7 linked regions of the Homo sapiens genome follow. The protein of the gene in region 1 purifies or fractionates together with the protein of each later gene. This does not show direct contact. Each region holds a gene or a part of one and is shown in the gene's direction. Other genes may lie near its edges.

Region 1 (3,500 bases):
CACGCCATCCCCCGCAACAGGCGGGTTTGGACCCTTGACTGTGCCGCTCTACCACCGGCTTCCCTCTTAAGATGGAGACACCCTGTACCCCACTCGCATCTTCCCAACAGAGCTTTACAAAATCCCCCTCCTTGTCTAGTCACGCCTTAGAGGCACGGCCCTGAGATCCCGATGACACATTCATAACAGGTGACAGGTCCGACATGTTTACTTCTTACTAGCCCAAAGAGGTCTTCAAAGCAAATCGCATCATAACAGTCACCCGCTCCTGCCTCTTTAGGGCTGACCAGGGTCGCCTCCTGGACTGCGTGGTGCGATGGGGAAGCCTCACTGAAGGGAAGATCAGGGCGCACCTGGGGGAGGTTCTGGAAGCTGTCCGGTACCTGCACAACTGCAGGATAGCACACCTGGACCTAAAGGTTGGTGAGGCCCCGGGCAGGTGAAGGGGGGTCTGAGCACACCGGCTTGGCCATGCGGGACACAGAGCCCCCTCTGAAGCCAGGCCAGGAGCCCCCAAGTGACTAGGGACAAAAAGGGTGGGTGGGGCAGCGCAGACACTGATTGCTAATCTCTCTCTCTAAGCGTTTGCGTTCAGTGATGCACACGGTCAGGAGCACACTGGGTAAAACGCCGGAGCCCTCCCAGCCTTCCACGACTTTCAGAAAGTCCCCATGAGTTTTGCCCGGTGGGTGTGGCGGGTGCAGTGGTAGCTTAGGCGGGAAAGAGAGCATTCCCCTTGGTGCTGGGAGGGAAAATGAACACCCAGCTTCATAAAGCAGCCTGGTTTCATTAGGCTACTTGGCACTTAGATCTCCAAAGAGAGCTGCCCTGTGTGGATCTGGGTCCCAGCTCCGCTGTGTCATCTCTTCCTCCTCACCCTCGGCTGCCAGCTGAGTGGTCCGGCCTGCTTTGCACATGCATGGCTTGTCCTAGTTGACATCCTAGATTCCTTCCACCTCACCATAGAGTCCCGCCCATCATCACGAGTAAGCTTAAGATTGGATGGTCTGAAAATGACAGTTGTATTCTGATTTCCAGCCTGAGAATATCCTGGTGGATGAGAGTTTAGCCAAGCCAACCATCAAACTGGCTGACTTTGGAGATGCTGTTCAGCTCAACACGACCTACTACATCCACCAGTTACTGGGGAACCCTGAATTCGCAGCCCCTGAAATCATCCTCGGGAACCCTGTCTCCCTGACCTCGGATACGTGGAGTGTTGGAGTGCTCACATACGTACTTCTTAGTGGCGTGTCCCCCTTCCTGGATGACAGTGTGGAAGAGACCTGCCTGAACATTTGCCGCTTAGACTTTAGCTTCCCAGATGACTACTTTAAAGGAGTGAGCCAGAAGGCCAAGGAGTTCGTGTGCTTCCTCCTGCAGGAGGACCCCGCCAAGCGTCCCTCGGCTGCGCTGGCCCTCCAGGAGCAGTGGCTGCAGGCCGGCAACGGCAGAAGCACGGGCGTCCTCGACACGTCCAGACTGACTTCCTTCATTGAGCGGCGCAAACACCAGAATGATGTTCGACCTATCCGTAGCATTAAAAACTTTCTGCAGAGCAGGCTTCTGCCTAGAGTTTGACCTATCCAGAAGTTCTTTCTCATTCTCTTTCACCTGCCAATCAGCTGTTAATCTGAATTTTCAAGAGAAAACAAGCAAACATAACTGATCAGCTGCCGGTATGTTCATCGTGTGAAATTGCATTCCAAGTGAGCTGTGCTCAGCAGTGCTTGGACACAGAGCTGCAAGCTGCGCTGGGGTGGAGGACCGTCACTTACACTCTGCCCAAGGCAGAGGTCGCATTGCTGTATCACAGTATTTTATTCAGGTTTCTGCAAAAAAATAAAAAGATAACTTTTTTAAACAAACATGAATAGAATTTTGCAAATTTAACGTTTTCAAGATTTATTCAAGGAAACAAAATGCCTATGTTCAACCACTGGTGTTAATGAACAAAGATACTGTGCGTCTCTGGGGAAGACGCACCTAGGTGGCGGCCACTCCCATGGCCTTGTCTAGGACTCAGAGACCACTCGGCTCTGAGCTTCCAGGCGCCTCGTCTGTGTGCATCTCACGCCCGACGTGGCTTCTGAAACGTGCATTCAACCTCAAACTTTTGCATAAAATAGAATGAATCGTTTTGCTCTGATGAAATGTAGGCCTTACTTGTATATAAGACTGTTCCTGCCTTCGGTCTGTCATTTTCCCACCTGCCTCCCCTACCCACCCCCCACCCACCACCTGGGGCTTCCTCTGGGGGTCCGAGGGTCTTCCCATCACATGAAGACATCAGGTTGGGTCCTGCCCCACTGCCCCTCCCCCTGTTCCTGCCCCAAGCCGTCAATCAGATTGTGGAGCAGTACACAGTCAGATGAAAATACTGTAAATGCACTCATTGGGGGTTTTTTGGTTTTACTTCATATCATGTGCAATGTTGTGGCTTTAACATTTTATGCAACTATTTATGAAGACCTCTGTTGTACCTGTAATAAATATATAGAAAAAGCACATACTTCGTATGGTGAGCTTTATGGTTTTGTGTGTGTGTTGGGGTTGGCGGGTGGGTGGGTAGGGTCGTAGCCCTGTGCCATCGGTTCAAAGAGACTTTTCGTGAAATTTGTTGGTTTTGAGGACTGTAAAAGTGATTTCATACTCTGAATATAAAACTGGATAATAGGGTAATGTTTTAAAATTTATTATGCTATTATTCAGAATGCCAAAGTATTATTTTTTTTCCCAAAATCAGTCTGGACATTTACTACTTTTTAGACTTTTTGACGTTGAACTTTCTGTATAAAAATTGGCTGGGTTTTGAGCTTTTGGTAAGAAATAAAAGCCGATTAAGCACTGGCCGCCCCGCGGCTGGTACCCAATGCCCGAGTCACTGTGGCAGCATTCGCACTGGTGTGGGGAGTCCTTTCAACTCAAGGAGGCTGGGTTTCTGGGCACCCTCGAAGTTTTCTGGATGTCTTTTTATCTTTCTCGTGTGAACTGCACTACAAAAGAGACCAGCCCGCTTCCCAAGCCAGCCAGACACCTGGGTCTTGAGCCATAAACTGGCGTAGTTAAGCTTTGCAGCTTCCAGTGTATTTTATTTATTCTTTTGTTGGGTTTTTGTTTGTTTCTTCTTGTAAAATTGTACAGAAACTTTTTAAAAGAAATTGGATTCGAAACTGGATGTGTATTCGTAACCTCATAATTTTTATTTGTGTATTGTTTCTTTTATTATTTCAGTTAAATTTTTACATTATTTTGCATGTATATTTCTTTGTACAGAGACCTTACATGTTTACACAGTATGATGTGATGTAAATATTTTATTTTGCCATCAGTTATTTTAAAAAATTAAACATATTTGCCTGATTTTTGTGTTAGGCTTTTTATTTAAATTGGTCACTGTTGAATCAGAAAGACAGATGGCTGAGGGAGAGACTGATGCAGAGACTTCTCGTGGGCGGGAGGTGGCAGAATGTACTGGATTGAGAACCCTCTGTACACAC
Region 2 (3,500 bases), on another chromosome or scaffold:
GTGGGCACTTGGGGGTGGGGGCTGTGCAAGGGGCTACGGCTCTTCCTCGAGGCCCAGCTCTGAGGGAAAGGCCCAGGTGTTCACAGGGGCCCTGGAGTGGGCGGTGGAGGTGCATGGCCCTGATCCCAGGTGGCTCTGACCCGGGTCTCTCCGCAGCAAATGTACATCACGTATGTGAGGAACTGCAAGTTCACCTCGCCTGGTGCCCTCCCCTTCATCAGTTTCATGCAGTGGACCTTGACGGAGCTGCTGGCCCTGGAGCCGGGTGTGGCCTACCAGCACGCCTTCCTCTACATCCGCCAGCTCGCCATACACCTGCGCAACGCCATGACCACTCGCAAGAAGGTGTGTGGTGGGGCCCTTCCAGGCTCATGCTGGGCATGGGGTGGGGCAGCCCAGGTGCCCGACCCAAGGCAGGGCCTGGGGCCTCCCCGAAGCCCCTGTCTGGAGACAGCCCAGCACCCTGGTGCAGTCGGTCCTTGCAGGTGGGGGAAGGGTGGATGGGTTGAGACCCCGTGTGCAAGATGAGGAAATGATTCCTGTGCCGGCCCAGGAGGAACGTGCATCAGCCTGACTTGTCAGCCTGGCCAGTAGCTGACGTGGTTCTCTCTGACCAGGAAACATACCAGTCTGTGTACAACTGGCAGTATGTGCACTGCCTCTTCCTGTGGTGCCGGGTCCTGAGCACTGCGGGCCCCAGCGAAGCCCTCCAGCCCTTGGTCTACCCCCTTGCCCAAGTCATCATTGGCTGTATCAAGTGAGTTGTGGGGTGGGCAGGGTTGTGCGGGAGGGTCAGGAGAAGCAAATTTGCTGGGACTGTGTGGGCGGTGCCTCTGGCGTTCAGGGCCTTGGGGCCTGAGTCTGTGTCCTGGCCGTCCCTGAGGAAGGGCTGGGGTCCCTGTACCTGCTACGGGGAGATGCTCTGGATTCTGGAGAGCTAGGGCTGGTGGGCACCTGTGACATGAGCTCCTCCAACAGCGGTTTAGCCGCCTCGGGTGCCACCCAGCGTGTGTTCTGGGGGCTTGTGTGCAGTTTGCAGTGAGTTTGGTTCATTACGTGGGGTTCTTGGGTGGAGCACATCTGATGCAGTGAACTGCATTTTGGGTGTGAGCGCTTAGGAGGGTCCAGGCACGGTAGGGGCTGCAGCAGGAAAAGGTGGGAGCAGTACTGTGGCCTCTTTGGCCAGGAGGGGGCATCTGTCTGGCTGAGCCTTAGAAACTCAAGGCTGGGAAGGGAGGTGGGAAGTCCAAGGGAAGAAGTAGGAAAGGCGGGAACAGGGAGGAGAGCAGGCAGGAACAGATGACCCCTGCCACCGTGTTGAAATAAAGCTGAAAGCTGGGTAAGGTACCTGCAGCCCCATAGCTGGGCAAGGGGTGCAGGTCCCTGGGGTTCAGACGTGCCTTGTCCTGCTTTAGGGGTCTGATGTCGGTGAGTGGGGGAGGAGGTCCAAGACAGCAGGGGGAGGGGCAGGGGCTGCCAGAGCCGGGGCCTCTGCTCACTCGGCCTTCCCACCCCCAGGCTCATCCCCACTGCCCGCTTCTACCCGCTGCGAATGCACTGCATCCGTGCCCTGACGCTGCTCTCGGGGAGCTCGGGGGCCTTCATCCCGGTGCTGCCTTTCATCCTGGAGGTGAGTGAGGCTGTGGTGGGCGTGTGGCACCTCTGCCTGCTCCTGTAGGGAGCATCTGCTGCTCCGGGCGTCTGTGCTGAGTTGTCCGGCGACTTCCCGGAGCCCTGGCCGCCTCCTTGTCACGGGTGTCACGAGGACAGTGCTCCTCCGTGTGCTGGGGGCAGTGTTGGGGAACGTGGGACCACTGGGGATGAAGGCGGCTGCTGCTAGGGCTGTGCTTGAGGATGCCGGGACCTGACCCTGTAGGTGCTTGCCCAAGACTGGAGTAGGCAGGAGGCGAGATGGGCCAAAACCCAAGTCTGATTGCTGAACTGTACACTGAACAGTGCCCTGCCCTGACAGTTGTGTGCATGTGTATGCATTTGTATGGGGGATGTGTGTACATCTGGGTGGGTGCGTTTGTCTGTGCATGCATGCGTGTGTGTGCACCATCTGGGTGCATGGGTCTGTAAATCTGTGTGTGTGTGCATATCAGTTCATGTGTGCATCTGTATGTGTGTATGCACGTGTATCCATGAATGCCTGTGTGCCTGCAGGTGTGTGCATCTGTGCGTGTGTACACCTGTGTGTATGCATGTGTGTACCTTTGCGTGTACCTTTGCGTGTGTGCACCTGTGCATGTGTCTTTGTATACCAGTGTGTACCTGTGTGTACCTGTATGCATGCACATGCGTGTGTACCTGTGTGCACCTGTCTGCATGTGTGTACCTGTGCGTGTGTGCACCTGTGTGCATGCATTTGCGTCTGCATGTGTCTACCTGTGCATGCATGAACCTTTGCATGTGTGCATCTGTGTGCATGCATGTGTGTCTGCGTGCATCTATGTACCTGTGTGCACCTATGTGCATACACACGTGTCTGTGTGCACTTGTGTGCATGCATTTGCATCTGCATGTGTGTACTGTGCGTGTGTACCTGTGCGTGTACCTGTACACTTGGGTGCATGCATGCACGTCTGCTTGTGTGTGCCTGTGCGTGTGTGCACCTGTGTGCATGTACGTGCGTCTACGTGTGTGCCTGTGCATGTGTGCGCCTGTGTGTACCTGTGTGTATGCATCTTTGCACGTGCACATGCCACTCAGGTAGGGAAAGATTGGAGTCCGAAGTTTCAACTTTCAGTGGGTGGGTTAGGCCCCACCCCGCTGTAAATTTAGGAATTCACGATCTCCACCCTGTTTATCTAATGAGTTCTCAGCCTCATGAAGGCCCAGAGTCGTGTCACAGCTGTCCTTGGGGCTGGGTCCCCAGGTTGCTGGGTCCAGAAGGTATGGAAGCCCCAGGCACGTTCTGATTCCCCTTCCACTGAGGCAGGGATGCTGAACATCTTTAGGAAGCCATGTTCACTCCCATGGCAGCCAGCAGTGGTCTCTGATTGCCCAGCCCTTGGCCTGGCCCCTGTGTCTGTGGGCCTCCAGCTCTGCTGCCCAGCTCCAGGCATGCTTTGTGTCTGTTTCCCTTGTCCAATCTCCTTGGCTACGTGCTTTCTTACTCTCTTGCAGTGTCTGTTTCTTCACTTGTGCACTGCCCTGGTTCACTGCAGCCGCACCCTGTAGGCCCCTCTCACGCAGGGATGCAGGCCTCTCCTCTCCGGAAAAAGCAAACCCTAAAAGCTAAAACAAAGCCCTCAGCTGTAGGCCGTGCCTGCCCTTCCCCGGTGCCTGGACAGGAAGCCAGTCGCCTGCCCATACTTTTGGCCCAGGCTAGAGAAGGGCAGTGTCCTCCCAGAGGTTCATCAGTACCAGGGCGTTTTCCCATCTGGACCTGAGCTCAGCTGTCTGGCAGCCACCCCTGCTGAGTGGGGTGTCTTGCTGGGGCCTCCACCCTTGGGCCCCCCATAATCTGCTTCTGTCCTCTGGTGCCCCAGCATGTA
Region 3 (3,500 bases), on another chromosome or scaffold:
CCTTCTTTTTTTGTTGTTCGCTATAATCATTTGAAAGATTATAAAAGATATAACCTTTTTTTATTTCAAGCTTTTCTATCAGAAGAAAAAGTCTTAATGATAAAAAGCAAATGTCTGACAAAGAGGAGGAAGAGGAAAACGTCTATGATGTGGATCTGACTAGCCCCGTTTTTACGTTAATGCCCACTCTGGGTAACTAACGTCCTTCTGTCCCCTCTGAGTTGCCTTCATCTTTAGGGTAGTCTGGGAAGTGACGCTGGAAATAAGAGCACCAGGATACGAATCAGGACACCTGGGCCCTGTCCTTTATCAGCCCTTGGTGCCCTCTGAGGTCTTCGGCACTGGCTGCAGGAACAGGTATTGATCGAGTGTGGGTACAGAGTCCGCTAAGGGCTTTCCACATCTTAGCTCACTTCATTCTTCCCACACCTCCATGAGCTAGCAGCTTAGAGGTAATTAAGCAATTTGCCCCAAGTCACAGAACTAGACTAGAGGGGCTCATGTTTAAAACCAGGTGTAGGCTGGGCATGGTGGCTTACACCTGAAATCCCAGCACTTTGGAAGGTCAAGGTGGGCAGATCACTTGAGGTCAGGGGTTCAAGACCAGCCTGGCCAACATGGTGAAACCCTATCTCTACTAAAAATACAAAAATTAGCCTGGCGAGGTGGTGCACGCCTGTAGTCCCAACTACTCCGGAGGCTGAGGCATGAGAATCCCTTGAACCTGGGAAGCGGAGGTTGCAGTGAGCCATGATCACGCCACTGCACACCAGCCTGGGCAACAGAACGAGACTGTCTCAAAAACAAACAAACCAAAAAGCCAAGTCTGTCTAACTAGTGAGACCAGGCTCTTAACCACCAGTCTTGACTCTAAATCACTTTATCTTTATTGTCTTCATCTGGAAAATGAGAAGATTGGATTAGATTAGATTCTATAAAATGGTTTATTCTCCTTTTCTGCTCTAAAATTCTCTCCCTCAAGCTTATGGTTCACTATATATAACTTATAATTGCTCCCCCCCCGCCCACCAAAACCTCTCCATGTTAAAGTTGTTACCAAGGAGTAAAGGGAAGATGGGTCATTTTTTTAAAAATCACTCAGAATGAATTATATTTATCAATTCAGAAGTAACAGTGGATTCATCTATCACTTTATCACTTTATAGTTTACTAAGAGTTGTGTGTCACATCACCTTTCATTTTTATAGAACCAGAGGAGATTGCTATTATTATCCCCATTGTACAGATGAGGATGCTGAGATTCAAAGAGGTGGAGTGACAACTCAAGTTTTGCATGGCTAACAAGTTATAGATCTTAGACCTGGAGCTAGTCGAATATTTAGACTTCCAAGTCTAATGTTCCTTCTAGTACCTAGCATCTTCTGAGACTTAAACATTTCTTATTTATCCAGTCAACACACCCTTCTTGCGTTGCCTGTGTAGCATATGAACTTGAACTAACCTTTGCCTCTGAAGAGCTCTCAATCTAGTTGAGGAAAGATTTACATTTTCGCCAACAGGAGAATAAGGAGAGTGCTATAGGATCACATTTTAGCCAACAAGAGAATAAGGAGAGTGCTGTAGGAACTCCTGGCAAGGAGTCAAGGAAAGCTCTCAGGAAAAGATGACATGGAAGCTGCATCTTAAAGACAGATTAGCAGCGAACTAAGGAAGGAGGAGAAGGGCCTTTAGGCAGAGAGGTTGTAGTTACTGCAAAGATAAACCTGTTAAAGCCATGTGGAGAGAAGCCACATGTGGGTGCAGCATAGTAGAGTTGTATGTAAAGAGTTGGAAAGGCAGGAGATGGGGCTGGAAATAAAGGAAGAATGTGGCCATCATCTACCACAATAAGGGGTTTAGACCTTATTCTGTGGGTAATGGAAACCACCGAAGACAGTGATGTCATCACGTCAGTATTACAAAAGTCAATGAAAGATCGTGTGGGGAGTAGACCAAACTTAGGAAGAGTGTAGAATGGAGATCACAGATTCAGATGCCTAATTGGCCTCTAAATGGTCATCTAGATGGGTGGCTCAGGGTGAGTGGGCCTGTGGCAGAGGGAGCCACGCCTCTTTAGAGGGTGCAGCCACCACTTGGCACCAGCAGGTGGCGATCTGCAATAACAAAGACAGTCCTTTCCAAGCTTTATTGTTTTTACTGGACGAAGGCAGAAATGCAGATATTTATTGTGAAATATCCCGATTTTTAAATGTTGAACTAATTTTAAAACTTTAAAATATTATGCAGACCAGTAGGAATAAGTTGGGCTGGTTTCCACACCGGGCTGCCATTTGTAACCTCTAGGTGTGAGGTACCTGTTTCAAAGTACTCATAAGGCCTCAGCAGAGATGATGAGGGCTTGGACCCTGGCTGGAGGTGAAAGGAGCACAGGGAGTATGAAATCCTTTAAAGGTAAAGATAACAGAATTGAGAACGATGGCCTCAGTAGGAAGAACAAAGGAGGGAAGAACAGTTGGATGACTTGAGGTTTATCAGTACATCCCCCGTGGTCCATTCTCATTCTGGGCAAACGTTTTCTTCACAGGTAGTGAAATCGGTTGAATTAGTTCAGCATGCCAGTGCGTTAATAATGTTACATGCAGGGTCATGCATCTGAGTGTAATTATGCATTTGCATGCCATGCCTGAATGAGCAGAGGTAGCTGTGACAAGAAAACATTGCATGAAGCTGTTGCTTCAATTTGCTTGACAAATAAGGGCATGGAGAGGGTTTGGGGAAGTACAGATTTCAGTCAAGTGTTGAAATAATGATCAATGAGACCTTTCATGTCAGAAGAACTAAGCTCTGAATCAGAGACCTGGAGGGCAAACACACCTGCTTGGCACCCACTTCCGACTGGTTTTATGGTCACCTTTATAGAGAAAACCATGTCAGGAGAATTTTGGGGTGGGGGAGCTGTTAATAGAGTCATCTTTATGTTTGACTTGTTGGCATGGCTGGTTACTTAGAAGCTGTTCTTTGGCATAGGTTAAATTATTCAAATCACCCCGTACCCTCCAGCATGTGTCTGGCTAGACCTAGCATCCTGACGGAGGTTCAGAGAAGCATTCCCCAGTGAGGGATTGCAGACCCTCCATCTGGGCAATGAAAAGTTTATCTTTTACAGTTCAGCGGCTCTCTCTGTTCTTAGGACATTGCTCCACATACGGCTAATGAATTATTTAGCGTCAGTCTGCTGGTCCACTCTGTTCTGAAGCTTCTTGCTACAGGAGGTGATGGTGAGGGCTGTGGTTAGACCACAGTGGTCCAGATGTGGTAGTTGCCTCTCATGACAAGTGTGTCTGCTTCGGTTTGTGTGTGAAGGTCTCAGACGGACACTGAAGGGAATGTTACTGCCGAGTCAAGCTCAACAGGTGTGAGCGTGGAGCCCAGCCACTTCACCAAGACTGGACAGCCTGCTCTGGAAGAACTCACTGGTGAGTATGGAGCCTCAGAAATCTGTGTCTGTTGGTGATGAGGCCTTCCACGCAATACCTGCT
Region 4 (3,500 bases), on another chromosome or scaffold:
TAGGAGGGTGAGCACCCATTTGGTGTGCAGTGGGGCCCTGATCCAGGAGGAACCAGCTGCCAGTCGCATTTGGTCAGACTGGTCCAGGCAGGCGGTGCTGGGATGCAGGAGTCCAATGTCCCTCCCATGCCCACCCCGGGCTCTTGGTGATTTGCACAGGCTCATGCACACGTCCCTCTTATTCGGAGTTTTTCACTGGTGTGCCCTGCTCAGGAAAGCCCAGCACCAGGCTCCGCTGCCTCTGGTGCTCTCCCAGCTCTCCCTACTCCCTGCGGCTTGCCGCTGGCCTCCATGCCATTCCTGATGCTGTCTCTTCCAGTTGATCCCTCAAAGAACCACAGCACTGTCCCCTGCCCCTCCAGGCACTCCCAGGGCTGCCTCTGGTTTCCCTTGGTGAGGAATTTCTCCTTCCTGCCGGGTGTGCCATGGTGTACGTCAGATTCAGGAGCTTATTGGGAAAAGGAAGGAAATGATTCCTGTCCCTTTCGACATCTGGGCTCCAGGGAGAGAAAGCTGTGTCCTGGTTTCTCTCCTCACCCCTTGCCTTAGGTTGGTGATGCAGAAACAAGGGTGCTTGGTCCCCAGCAAGTAAGATGGCCCTGGGCACCCTGCCTTTGTAACAAGAGCAGGCAGTTGGCACAGGCCCTGAGAGTAAGCCAGCCTGTCCCCTCTACAGATGCAGACAGAGCTTCACACACACACATCATCACACCCCCCAGACCTTACTTAGTACACATGGCACAGACACCATTGAGGCATGTGCAGATAGTGGGCACAAGGCACAGAGAGAGCAGGCAGGTGGCCACAGTGAATCAGGGTCTGTAGTGCAGACAGGAGGAGCCACCCTCCCTGAGGGAACAGGCCGATTGTGGGGAGGGGCTCACGGCACAGGAAAGAGTACCCCAAGGTCAGGAGGCAAGAAGGAGGCACCTGCATCCCAAAAGGTCCAGCAGACGTCACCAGCAAATGGGGTGGAAGTGAAGGGTCTTGAATTCTGCCCTTGACAGTGGGGCTTTACACTGTGGGCAGGGGTTTCTCCAGGGGGGCCCTCTGTGTGCTCTAGCGGGGAGCATGCTGTCCTCTCACTTGGATCCTAATCATAAATTCACATGAGCACATTTTGTGGTGAGACAGTAGAGCCTCCAGATCACTTGGAATTGCAAGGGAGTGGGAGGAGGCCCCAGGCACTGGCAGTTGCTGGGGGCAGCTCTGCATCGTTCACATTCTCCCAGAAGCTCCAGGGGCCAGGGCAGTCCCAGGCAGAAGAGGGGCCCTTGGCCGCTTGCACTGCTTGAGGGCAGCCAAGCTTGCTGGGAAATTCACGCCATCTTCGAATGCCTTACAGCTCTGCTGGGGCATGGCTGGCAGGACGTGCCGCCTCCTCATTGACCTACTAGGGCTCCCAGCCTCTGCTCATTTCTCCAGCTCACAGTCTTCCCTTTGTCGTTTGAATGTCAGTGTCCCTCCTGCTCTCAAAGTGATTTTTCCTTTTTTGCTTTATGTTCTTTTTTTTTCTTTTTTGGTAGAGATGGGGGGTGGGGGGGGGGTGGCGATCTCACTGCCCAGGCTGGTCTTGAACTCCTGGCCTCAAGCACTCCTCCTGCCTCACCCTCCCCAAGCGCTGAGATATAGACCTGAGCCACAGCGCCTTGCCAGTTGTTTTATGTTCTTTATCCTTTTACCTGCTTGCCTTCTGTAACCTGGGTTGCATTAAATTTACTCCTACTTGTGAGTAAATGTGAACCATAGCAATAAATTTAGTCTATCCCCAGAACCTTCAGTAGCAAGCACCCCTATTCCTACGTTATTTGTATGTGTCCACTTTAAATAAATTACCTTTCAATTCTGCCTCTAAAAGAAGAGAAGGGTTTTGTGTTTTGTTAATTTACCACCCTTCACCCCTTGCATTCCAAATCCCTCACTGATCAGACATTTAACTTGGTGCTGGGACCTTTCCCTCTGCCCACCCCATTCTCTTTTGTGTTTTTTATCTTTAGGCTTCCAGAAGGCTTGTTCCAAGTTAGCAATTCCTGATAAGGACAGCCCTCTTGTGGGCTGTGAGCTCCCTGCATCTCTTACTTCCCACTCTCTTCATCCTGCACCTCAGGCCCCTGCCACAGCCGCCCTTTTAGCAAAGTTTGTAGGCAGAGTCTGTGGCTATTCTAAGACTGATGATTCTAGAAGATTCTCCTTGCCTTCTTCGTTCAGTTTTCAGAACCTGGAAGTCCTCATGAAGGTGATGGGCTGTGAAACTGTTCCCCAAATTCTCCACCCTAGAACTCGGGGTGTTCCTCAGAGTCTCATGTCCGTTTGTCACCATAAAAGAATGCAGTTTTTCTCCCTGGCTTAGTAACTGTGTAGGATTTCTTTTTTATTTTTTTCTGGATCCAATCTCATCCACTACTGCGTAGGACTCGCTGAATAAAGTTTCCCAGCCTGAGTGTTAGACAAAGCCCAAGGTGGAGTCCCCGCTGTGGGGAGGGTTTGGAGGGGTCAGGCACCCGAGAGGAAGGGGGCAGGAGAGAGAAGGGTCCATGCTGAGTGGGTGCTGGCAGGGAGGCCCAGGTGTGGGGCCTGGAGGTGAATCCCCGGGGCGACGCAAAGAACATGGAAGGGGGGGCGCTGGAGAGCTGTTTGGGTATAGGCAAGGCAGGCAGGCTGGGGAGGCGACTATGGAGATTCGGAGTTAGGAGAGAAGAGGAGCCAGAGCCACCCTGGGAGGAGGCTGTGAGGCACCATGTGCCTCTTTCCAGTGAGAGAGAAGCCGGTGAGGGAGTGAAGGCACAGGCTTTGCGATCCCTCTTTGGCCCTGTCTTCCTTCTGACACCTCAGGCGAGGGACTAACCCTCTCCAAACCTTGGGATTCTCATCTGTGAAATGGGGGCTTGTCCTGGCTCCTGGGGTGTTAGGGGCAACTCCCAGGGCTGGTCAGCTCTGGTCATCCCTAAGGACTTAGGGAGGAAGAGCCCACATGCCGCACAGTGGGGTCAGCGCCTGGAACTGTCCACAGTGCCCCTCTTCCAGCCAGGGCTTAGCAGGCCTGAGCCATTCTAGGCTCACAATTCCCTCCTCCTATTAGAGAGCATTGAATAGGCTCGATGGTGTCCCACAGCACCTCCTGTCTGTCCCAGATTAAACCTCTGCTTCTCTCCTGGCCACCCCTTGGGTGGCCCCAGCAGCCTCTGGGGATCCCTTCCTGCTCCCACTCTGGCCTATCTCCAAAACAGCCCTGGGCCGGCCTCCCGCATCTTGGCCCTTCTCTTTCCTCCCCTGAACACCACTAGAGCCCCAACAGGTGTCCCTCCTGCCATCTGGTCACCACGTCCAGGCTCACAGACCTGGTGGCTTCACTCCCTCACCTCAGAGCCCTCCTGGCTGCTCGGGACCCGTGATCAGGTTGAACCCCCTCACCTACCTCAGTGCCTGGCCTCGGCATCCCTGTCCTGCTCGTCTCTGGCCACGCTGGCCACCCTCTGCCAGGAACAGTCTTCCTCCTCTGT
Region 5 (3,500 bases), on another chromosome or scaffold:
GGCTGAGGCAGGAGAATCGCTTGAACTTGGGAGGCGGAGGTTGCAGTGAGCCGAGGTGACGCCACTGCACTCCAGCCTGGGTGACAGAGACAGAGTGAGACTCAGTCTCAAAAAAAAAATTTTTTTTTTAAAGCATGCCATGTTGGTATAGTCAGGACACTTGAATATCACGACTTGAGGAGGTTGATCATTAGAGTGCTCAACAAAACATGCCTATTTCTTTATAATACACTGTTGGTTATCTTCACAATAGCATTCTTCCCTCCCTCAGTTGAAGAGTAGCCTCTGATATTAGTAAAAATTCATAGACAGTATTAAGTGCTTTTCCCTTTTAATTACTCTCTACTTCTCAGGAGCTTGCCTGGGCCAGAACATTTCTAAAACTGGAGAGAGTTAGAGGGCTATACCTCATACCTGAGCAAAAGCTGAGTGCAGACCCTGAGAAAAGCCAAACTTGCTGATTTTAAGCTTCTTGCTTAGGACCAGGATTGGGAGCCACACAATTGGGAGGTTCCAGTGAATGCAGGCAACAGAGGATGAAGCAGGGCCAAAAGGTGGATACCTGGCAATAATATCTTCCTTATTAGGGTTAGAACATTCAGAAGTCTCCTTTATTAGATGCCAACTTTTTTTGGGGCGGGGAGTGGGTGGCAAAAGAGACTCATAAAATGTACCATTTTATGTATTTACAGGGTAGAATTTAGTGGCATTAAGCACATTGACAATTTTCTACAACATAGTGGTTGTCATTTCACCACTATCTAGTTCCAGAACTTTTGTATCAGAACTTTTGTATCACCGCAAAAGGAAACCCCATGCCCATGAAGCGTCAGTCCACATGTTTTCCTCCCCCAGCCCCTTGCAACCCATAATTTGCTTTGTCTCTTTATGGATTTGCCCGCCTATTCTGGATATTTCCAGCTATTCTTATATGCATCTTTTTTATTCTTCATCAACTAGCTGGTAATGAATCTTGCCCTCAGCCTCAGACATCGGAACACCTGGCTGCTATAGAGATCATGAAACTGAAGCATATTTTGATTCTACAAAATAAAATTGATTTGGTAAAAGAAAGTCAGGCTAAAGAACAATACGAGCAGATCCTTGCATTTGTCCAAGGTAAGAAGCCATAATATGAAATAAATCTATGAATCACTTTGAGAGGCATTTACTCTGGATACCAGATGTTAAATTAACTTTTAATATATTATCTAAAACAAGGTAAACTTACAAGTCTTAAGCCTTATCGCCCTACCTTTTGCTTGTTAGTAACCTGATATAACTAATGAAACCTGTGATTCTGAATTTAATATACTAAAGTATATTTTTGCTGGCAGCAAGTTAGAACTGAGGTTGTTTTCTGGAAACTTTATCAATCAGATTAAAAAAAATCTCAGTGACAGTAAAATGAATAAAATAATTTTAAAAAACCTTGTCTTACAGTATTTGTTACTGAACAGCTTTCAGATTTGGAAGTGACAGTGATTATTTAATCTCTAGAGTGTCGGCCGGGCATGGTGGCTCACACCTGTAATCCCAGCACTTTGGGAGGCTGAGGCAGGTGGATCATCTGAGGTCGGAAGTTCGAGACCAGCCTGACCAACACGGAGAAACCCCATCTCTACTAAAAATACAAAATTAGCAGGGTGTGGTGGCACATGCCTGTAATCCCAGCTACTTGGGAGGCTGAGGCAGGAGAATCGCTTGAACTTGGGGGGCGGAGGTTGCGGTGAGCCGAGATCACGCCATTGCACTCCAGCCTGGGCAACAAGAGCGAAACTCCATCTCAAATAAATAAATAATAAATCTCTAGAGTGTCCCTTCTCTAATAGCATAATGTTTTTCATTTCAGAGGAGATGTGATTTATTGTTGACATTTTCTCTCTCAGTCTTGTTTTTCTTTTTAGAAAGGTTAATTTCTTATGAACTCAGTTCTGTCATCACGAGAAGTAATAAGTGAATTTGATTAAAGTCTAATTGTGTTTGGTCTATTTCTTTGACTAGCTTGTTTGACGTATAATCAATACGTAGCAAATATATATGGTTGGGCGTGGTAGCTCACACTTGTAATACCAAGACTTTAGGAGGCTGAGGCGGGTGGGTCACTTGAGTCCAGGGGTTCAAGACCAACCTGGGCCACGTGGTAAAACTCTGTCAATACAAAAAATTAGCTGGGCTTGGTGGCACACACCTGTGTTCCCAGCTATTATGTAGGAGGCTGAAGTGGGAGGATCGCTTGGGCCTGGGAAGTGGAGGTTGCAACAAGCCGTGATTATGCCACTGCAGTCTAGCCTGGGTGACAAAGCGAGACCCTATCTCCAAAAAAAAAAAGTATATATGCCAGCAGTCTTTGATTAGCAGAGTCTGTAATTTTATCTTGACATTTATTGGGAGATTAATTACATGTTGTTAGAAATTTTTTCAACTAGTAGAGTGCTCTTTCACAGGAATGTTAGTATTTTCTTTATTTAAATAAGTTTATCATTGTACTAATATTAAGTATGTCTACTAATATAATGTAACAAATTTTCTCTTACAGGGATTTGTATTCATTTTCAGGAGTAAAAACAAACAATATTGCCATCTTTCTAAACAGAATTATCCACTTTCCACTTGTTGCTGACATTTATATGGGGTTTAGGCATCTATTTTATTATAGTAATCTTAATTGTTTTATGTAACAGATACATAGAATAAATTTTATAAAACTGTATAATTTTGATCTTTCTAAATTTTGTCATATAGGTACAGTAGCAGAGGGAGCTCCCATTATTCCAATTTCAGCTCAGCTGAAATACAATATTGAAGTTGTTTGTGAGTACATAGTAAAGAAAATTCCAGTACCCCCAAGAGACTTTACTTCAGAGCCCCGGCTTATTGGTAAGTGATAGGATTTGCCTTTAACTCTTAATCTGATCTTTTCCACATTGGTGATTCCTCTTCAAGGATGTTTATTAATATTTCCTCTTTCTGCAGAGGTGATAATTCATACAATTTTTTTGAAATCAATTCTGAGATTGTATTGGCAGTGCTAGATTGTATTACTGAATGAGGGACAGAGTCCTGAACACAGTAAGAACTGTTAACCTAAGCCGGGCGCAGTGGCTCACGCCTATAATCCCAATACTTTGGGGGGCCGAGGTGGGTGGATCACCTGAGTTCAGGAGTTTGAGACCAGCCTGATCAGCATGGTGAAACCCTGTCTCTACTAAACATATAAAAAATTAACTGGGCATGGTGGCGGGTGCCTGTAATCCCAGCTACTCGGGAGGCTGAGGCAGGAGAATGGCGCGAACCCGGGAAGCGGAGGTTGCAATGAGCTGAGATCGCGCCATTGTACTCCAGCCTGGGCAACAAGAGTGAAACTGCGTCTCAAAAAAACCCAAAAACAACTGCTAACCTTTCTGTGCTTAATATATGGTACATGATCAAGATGGAGTAATACAGTATTCTCCATGGAATCATAATGTTTTAGGGTGTTAGAACTTCCTGACTAAAAC
Region 6 (3,500 bases), on another chromosome or scaffold:
GTTCTGCAGTCGATGGCCTGCCGGTGTCTGCAGGTGCCTGTCGGTGTCCTCTTCTGCTGGTGTGTTCCTTTCGACGTCCAGCCGCTTATGTGTTCCTTTCGACGTCCAGCCGCTTGTGTGTTCTTCCGCCAGTGTGTTCCTCTCGATGTCCAGCCATTTTTGTCTCTGCCTGCTAAGGTCTCGGGGTTTTTATAGGCACAGAATGGGGAGGTGGTGGGCCAGGGTGGTCTTAGACAATGCAACATTTGGGCATGAAAACATAAATGCCTGTCCTCACTAGGTCCATGGGCACAGGCCCAGGGGTGGAGCCCTAGCCAGGGACCCCATCTTTCTCTACACAGCACTTCCCTGCCCCCTTCCTGTATCAATTTTATGTATAAAACAAGGGGTTGGGAATGGATGATTTGTGGAGTTCTATGTCTAACATAGCATTGTCCATGTGAGAAAAATCAGTTAAAATAAAATATTTTTTATGGGTTTATAGTTCTCAGTTCAAAGTGAACAATTCAGAGTAAAAAGCAGGGAAACATAAATTATCAACAAAATACTAAAAATATTTATCTTTTTGCAAATAATTAAAAGAAATGCCATAAAATTCCATTCTAATCTTCTGTGTATCCACAAGTCTGTATGGATTCAATGGCAAGAATAGAGAGAGACACTGTCTCTGCTGACCATGGCTATCTTTTCTGTAGGTTTAGTGAAACTTCCACTTTGCTAAATGACCTTGGCCTAGGATTTGAGCACTATAAGCACTGTTTTCAATATAATTTTGGTTGATCTCTTTGGTTAGCAAACATATTAATCAAACATCTGATATCCCAATAAGCCTCTGTGGTAAGCAAAGTTGTATTTATAGGGATGTTTTCACCATGCCACTTATCAGATTAAAAATGTTTTCAAACAAATGTAAAGAATGCCTGGTCAGCAGTTCAGAATATTTCTAAATGTTAAAAAGAAGTATATGTAGAGTTATTTTAGCTTTTGGGAAAAAAAAAAAAACCCAGAACTGAAGTAAATAGCAAAATCGAACAAGGTAGTTATATTAGAGAGAATTAGACTTGGCTGCAAAAGCAGAAAAGTCAACATAACAATAGCATAAAGAAGATAGACGTTTATTTCATTTTCATGTAAAGGAAATCTGGAGTTGAGCAGTCCATGTATGGCTGGTAGGGAGACTTCAGGAAGTTGTCAGGGAACCAGGCTCTATTTTGGTTGCCATCATCGATTTGTGGCTCACACCTCATAGTCTTGAGTAGATAATTGCACTCCACTTAATTAAAAAGATACACCCTGTTTTATTAAATATTCTTCCACACTGGCCTCGTTATAGTTCCAAGGCCTTACCTTGCTCCAATGGAGACTGAAAAATGTAGTATTTGTTCTAGGCAGCCATGTGCTCAGCTAAGAATTATGGGTTCAATTTCTAGGAAAAGATACTATTGATAGTACCCACAATAGACGACTGTCATTAAGAAACATTTATGTGGGGTACTCTGCTAGTCCTTGTACCAAACAGTTTTATGATCTGGTTTGAGAGAACAAATTTACATATGACAGTGTCAGAAATGTGTGTTCAGTTGTCACTCCCTTCACCTGTTGTTTCAATTAGTGCAAATGCCATCATTCCAGTCATCTAATCCCGAATTCCTAGACTAATATCTGGTAAAGTACATCACCATTTCACATCCCATAACTTGCCAGAAGTTGAGAATTTTACTTCAGTATTATAGCTTGGGTTTATCTTCTTCTGCAATTGCTCATCCTTTGATGGCCTTTAAAGTTTCCTATCAATTATTTCAGTGATTCCAAATTGGTATCGTCTCCTCCTGTGTCTCTCTACCCACATCCATGCAGCATATTCACCATCCTGCTTAAGAAGAAAACTTTATTTGCTTCTCATATCTTATAATGTCTTCATTCAGGCATTCTTGTCTCCCAGTTGTCACTTTCTCTATTTCCGTCATAGCTCCATCTAGCTGCTACATCCCAGATGTCTTCTTCCTGGGTGTCCCAATTTCTTCAGAATGTTTAGTCCCACTGTCCTTTAACAAATAAATAATACTAGTTCCAGACTCTATGTCATATGCAGTTGGAAAATCCTCCACAATATTTCAAGGGCTTATGTTTTCCTTAGCTATATCTTGTTCTGATTTCTTTCTTATCTCAAATTTTCTAATCTCTCTCATATGGATTTGTTTTTCCATTCTTCCTGGGCATACACCCAAATGAAGAACAGAGTCACTTTGCCTTGGAACCTTTACTTAACATTCTGGAAGTTAAGGTTAAGAAAGAGTGTTCTATTTTGTCACAGCTCAGCAAACAACATCCAATTAAGCATTAAACATCCCTGTTCATGAAAGTTTCTTGGCCATACTTACTGTGGAGCACTTCCTGGCTTTTACATCTCAATCCCCAGTCTCCTTCCAACTTGGTCTGCCACCTTTCTTTTACTCCTATTTTCATTTCCAACTTCTTTCCAGTCTTGGGCTCACTCATTCCTTCCCTCTCAGATTACTTGTGCAAACTCAAGATTCTGTTTTACATTATTATGGAAAGCAATTATTTTTTGTGGACAAGCCTTGTATTTTATAGAAAATTTTTTACTTTATTCTTAAAACATTTCAAAGAAAGTATTATAATCTACATTTACAGAGAAATAAACAGAGAGAGTAGGAGTCATACATAGGATCACACAGTTAACTAGTAACAAAATCCAAAATTTGAATTAAAGTTTGTTCAAAGGAAGACTTTTTTCTATGTTATTTTATTTATACTTTCTCTTAATGATGTAACAGCAATATTTTTTCTGGGTTTACCCTATCATCCAAATCTTACCCACTATTTAAGATTATTTCAAAGGTCAAATAAAAGTATAGACAAATTGGTGTGGATGCTATAAGGGAGGAGAGATTACATCCGCTTGGGGCAATCCAAAGAAATTTATTCAAAGAGTAGAGGCGTTTATGTCCATGGTAGAATGTATGCTTATTTAATTCCTATTCACTCTGCTAGTTAAGGGCAACCATGGTAAGAATTATTTCTTGCTGTTGTGTTCACACAGAGCTGGCACTAATGCTTTGAAAACAGAAAATACACAAAAACAGTAGTTAAAATAAATATTTAAAATAAGCATAAATAATATTGTCATGCAAATGTATTGTATAAATAGTATTGCTAATGTGGACAATTCTTTTGCAGAATGTTAGGGCTGAGAGAAATTGTATATGAATGGAGCATTCAGAAAAGACCGAATTTTTGAAATTTAATGAGCAGATAGGACTCAGATATATAGAGTAAAAACATTCTTTTGAGGAAAAGTTATGTAAACTTTTAAAGTTTAAACTTTAAACTTTAAAAGTTTACATAACTTTTCCTCAAAAGGGAAGTAAACAACTATAAATGAAGCATAATATTTATGGAAAACAGCAGGTAGACAATGGAGAAAGATCTTATGTAAGAATGAGACCAAATGACACTGGTAATGATATTTAGGAGAA
Region 7 (3,500 bases), on another chromosome or scaffold:
TGAAGTACCTTTTTTCTATAAATGTTACTCCGTAGCTAATAAATGTGGCTAGTGGATGTCTTTTGAGTGCTGGGGCCCCAGCTAGAGCTGCCCCTCCTGTCTGGGGCAGACGCCGTGAGGAGCCCCACGCTCGGCCCAGGTGGCGCGAGCTAGTGTTTGGCCCCAAAAACTGACTGCTGAGAGCCAGAGATACGAATGAAATGATAAATCCTGAGGTTTATTTCACATGGAGTGTTTAAAGAGCAGAAGGAAGTGCGTGATAAGTGCCCTTTCGCGGTGAGCACGCGAGTCTCATGTTCTCTGCCCTTCCCGCTCTGTGCCCTTGGCAGCTCCCCTCCCACCCGGTCACTCCGTCCAGCAAGCACGCAGACAGCAAGCCCGCGCCGCTGACGCCCGCCTACCACACGCTGCCCCACCCCTCCCACCACGGCACCCCGCACACCACCATCAACTGGGGACCCCTGGAGCCTCCGAAAACACCCAAGCCCTGGAGCCTGAGCTGCCTGCGGCCCGCGCCTCCCCTCCGGCCCTCAGCTGCTCTCTGCTACAAGGAGGTGAGGTCCCTTGACCACTCAAACAGCCAGATGACGGTGAGCATGCCTCGGGCCCTGGGTGTGCCCACGTGCTGGGCCTTCTGTGTACAGCAAAATGCACCCTAACTCCTAGAGAACTGAGAAGGGGGGGTCTGCCTTGGTTCTCTGGTTATCTGCTCTGCTGCTGAGAGGCCCGTGGTAACCTGTGTGGGAAGGCGATGTGCAGGGTCCCCCTCCTTTCTGCCATGCACAGGGGGGCCTTTACTGCACTTGCCGGAGGAGTGTGCCGCCAGGGGCCAGGAGCTGGAAAGGCGCTGAGCCCAGGTGGCTTTCACTCCCTGTGTGTGAGGCCATCGCTCAGCATCTGCACGCTGTCTGCTGCGTCTAACGACCCCTCCTCTAGGTTGGGGATCCTGTCCAGGAGCCCTGCATTTTGTCATCCAGAAGCCATTTGAGATGAAGAGAACATTTACTAATACAAATGAAAAACAATCACTTAGGCGGTTTCCCCCTTTGATGCATAAGAAATCATGATGCGGTCTTTGCTTGTCTCTGTTCTCATCCGGCATTTTTATATTTGCTAGGCGCAAATAAAGTACGATTCCAATGAATAAATAGAAGTGTTAACACTTCCTTACACTTTTACCTAAACCAGCTTGGATGAGGAAAGGAAGTGTCTTTAGAAATCTGTTCTGAGAAGTACTTTCACCTGAGGAAGCTGATAATTGAGATGAGAGTTGTTTTCATAAGCAGTTGAGCGTGCATGGTGGTGAGGTATGAGGAGTGGCGGTGAGAGTGTGGGTATCGTGCGCGTCAGTGTGAGCAGCAGTGCCCGTTGGTGGGGTGTGAGTGAGCGTGAGGATGGTGACACGCTCTTGCCTGGCATTGTGCCTCTGTGTCTGGTCAAGGCCACATTTGCCAAGGGAACTGGAGCAGACTTTTTCTACATTCTTGCCGGCAGCCCTGGGGGTTTTAAGGCCCACAGGAAAGTACTGTATGAGAAATTAGGATCTGTGCTTTTCATTTTTTGTTCTGAGTCTTTGTTTTTATGATATCTTTCAGGTAATCATGTGTGCAAGTCAGAATTTCCATTTTCTATCATGGGAAGTTACTTGAAGAATGTTGCTGTTCCTTATTGTATACTTTAGTGTGCACAGTCTAAAGAAAAAGTGAGCTACTACAAGAACTGGTGGAGACTGAATTACTAGGGAAGAAAATTGGGATAAAACTGTTGGGCAAAGAAGTAGAAAGGGCAACGGAAGGGGTATTGAAGTGAAGATAAACAATTTTTTTTGATAAGTCTGGCTGCATTTGCTTTGCCAACTCCACACTGGGAGAGAAGGGCTCACACCGAGCAGCTGCCGTCCAGTGTTGCTGAGCACCGCCCAGCAGTAGCGTGGAGAGTGATCTTGCAGGGTGTGAGAAGAGGACATGGAGGCTCGTGGAGGCCGCTCTGCAGCCCGCTCTGCCTGGCTCTGGCTCAGGTGTGCTGTGTGCTCTGTGACCCTCTGCGCCTGCAGGTGCCCTCGGAGCACGTGAGGGGCGGGCGTTGGCTCTTCAAGGCTCTCCATCTCAATTTGCTTCGAATTAGGGAAGCCATGAGCACATGTGTATAAATGTGTCTTCTGGAACAGATTGCTGCTGCATTTCTAAGAGCTTTCCAATTTTTTATAGAAATACTTTTGTTTAACTTTTTGAAGGCTATTTTAGATTCAGAGTTTGTTACGTGGCTGTATTGGGTGATGCTGGGGTTTGGGCTTCTGGGGTACCTATTACCCAAATAGGAAACATTGTACCCAATGGGTAGCTTTTCAAAACTCACCCCCATCACCTTCCGCCTTTTGGAGTCCCCAGGGTCTGTCATTTCCATGGTCATGTCCATGTGTACCCATTGTTTAGCTCCCAAGAAAAGACTTTTAAAGATAATTTTAAAAACCAAGCTTTGTTTCCTCTGTTTCCAGCCTGGTTCATTCCATAGCACATCTCATCTTCTGAGTCTTGGTCTCGCGTTTAGCATTCGTGATGGTTTATGTCGTTGGGGTGATGCAGAAACCAGCCTTTTTTTGATATCGGTATTTAACACGTGCTTGACAGTTGACACCTTACCTGCTCTGTTGGGACTTGCTTTGCTCACTTTGTTTTTTGCCGTCGTCTTCTGTGCTTGTTTGAAAAGCTGTTTGAAGAGGTAAGGGGTGGGCCATTCCGTTGTGAACACTCTGAGCTGGTGTGCATGTGGCCCCTGCACAGCAGCCCTGGCCGAGCTTGGCTGTGCTCCTGGCACTCAGAGTCAGGTAGCTGAGCACTCGCTCCCTTTTCTTCTCCCTGAAACTTCAAATATTTTCTTAAAGCAATTATTTTTTACTTATCTGTCATTTAATGACAACCTTAGTTTCCTCCTCTCTTTCCAGTTAGCTGTGCCAGGGGATAGGTCTGTCCTAGGGAGCAGCTGCCCCCTCCTCTCCTCCTCCCTCAGGAGCGTGCAGGATGTCTGTGCACACCAGCGCCAGCCTGCCTCCTGGTGACACCTCTCATCACAGGACTAACAGGACCCAAATGACACGAGGGGTTTTATTAGAATTAAAAAAAAAAAATTAGCCAATGACTAATACTGAAAATGCCCTATTGATTTTTAAAAATTAACGTTCAGAAGCTGGTAAAGAAAAATCAAAGTAGGAAAAGGCGAGAAGCTCTTATCAGTGGCTATAATAATTTGGGGTTTTATACCTTTACAGCAGCCTTTCTGATATGCCAGTGAAAATGATTGGCTTTAGAGTATGTTAGCATTTTCTTTTGTCTTTCCCTAGGATCTTAGTAAGAGCCCTAAGACCATGAAAAAGCTGCTGCCCAAGCGCAAACCTGAACGGAAGCCTTCAGATGAGGAGTTCGCGTCCCGGAAAAGTGAGTACCTGCGGTCCGTGTGGTGGAGGACGTGGCCTCCTGGTCACGTAGGCCATGGCTTTCCTGGGA

Evidence for each region.
Region 2: the proteins of TRIO (region 1) and NOC2L purify together in Homo sapiens (co-immunoprecipitation; one large-scale study listed by IntAct). This does not show direct contact.
Region 3: the proteins of TRIO (region 1) and NAV2 purify together in Homo sapiens (affinity purification with western blotting, with the first as the bait; one study listed by BioGRID). This does not show direct contact.
Region 4: the proteins of TRIO (region 1) and PPM1F fractionate together in Homo sapiens (co-fractionation; one large-scale study listed by BioGRID). This does not show direct contact.
Region 5: the proteins of TRIO (region 1) and EIF2S3 purify together in Homo sapiens (affinity purification with mass spectrometry, with the first as the bait; one large-scale study listed by BioGRID). This does not show direct contact.
Region 6: the proteins of TRIO (region 1) and NAV3 purify together in Homo sapiens (affinity purification with western blotting, with the first as the bait; one study listed by BioGRID). This does not show direct contact.
Region 7: the proteins of TRIO (region 1) and ARHGEF7 purify together in Homo sapiens (affinity purification with mass spectrometry, with the first as the bait; one large-scale study listed by BioGRID). This does not show direct contact.

The regions. Positions count from the first base shown.
Region 1 is NC_000005.10:14,506,842-14,510,341, forward strand, and holds the end of TRIO (triple functional domain protein), read left to right. Parts: intron 1-280; coding exon 281-419; intron 420-1,038; coding exon 1,039-1,581; 3' UTR 1,582-3,363; downstream 3,364-3,500. UniProt on the Homo sapiens protein: Guanine nucleotide exchange factor (GEF) for RHOA and RAC1 GTPases. Involved in coordinating actin remodeling, which is necessary for cell migration and growth. Plays a key role in the regulation of neurite outgrowth and lamellipodia formation.
Region 2 is NC_000001.11:949,257-952,756, reverse strand, and holds part of NOC2L (nucleolar complex protein 2 homolog), read left to right. Parts: intron 1-156; coding exon 157-345; intron 346-617; coding exon 618-757; intron 758-1,518; coding exon 1,519-1,630; intron 1,631-3,500.
Region 3 is NC_000011.10:19,936,337-19,939,836, forward strand, and holds part of NAV2 (neuron navigator 2), read left to right. Parts: intron 1-3,324; coding exon 3,325-3,437; intron 3,438-3,500. UniProt on the Homo sapiens protein: Possesses 3' to 5' helicase activity and exonuclease activity. Involved in neuronal development, specifically in the development of different sensory organs.
Region 4 is NC_000022.11:21,946,349-21,949,848, reverse strand, and holds part of PPM1F (protein phosphatase 1F), read left to right. Parts: intron 1-3,500. UniProt on the Homo sapiens protein: Dephosphorylates and concomitantly deactivates CaM-kinase II activated upon autophosphorylation, and CaM-kinases IV and I activated upon phosphorylation by CaM-kinase kinase. Promotes apoptosis.
Region 5 is NC_000023.11:24,061,456-24,064,955, forward strand, and holds part of EIF2S3 (eukaryotic translation initiation factor 2 subunit 3), read left to right. Parts: intron 1-960; coding exon 961-1,119; intron 1,120-2,745; coding exon 2,746-2,880; intron 2,881-3,500. UniProt on the Homo sapiens protein: Member of the eIF2 complex that functions in the early steps of protein synthesis by forming a ternary complex with GTP and initiator tRNA.
Region 6 is NC_000012.12:77,833,894-77,837,393, forward strand, and holds part of NAV3 (neuron navigator 3), read left to right. Parts: intron 1-3,500. UniProt on the Homo sapiens protein: Plays a role in cell migration. May be involved in neuron regeneration. May regulate IL2 production by T-cells.
Region 7 is NC_000013.11:111,282,810-111,286,309, forward strand, and holds part of ARHGEF7 (rho guanine nucleotide exchange factor 7), read left to right. Parts: intron 1-329; coding exon 330-554; coding exon of another isoform or gene 555-590; intron 591-1,595; exon of another isoform or gene 1,596-2,017; intron 2,018-3,337; coding exon 3,338-3,431; intron 3,432-3,500. UniProt on the Homo sapiens protein: Acts as a RAC1 guanine nucleotide exchange factor (GEF) and can induce membrane ruffling. Functions in cell migration, attachment and cell spreading. Promotes targeting of RAC1 to focal adhesions. May function as a positive regulator of apoptosis.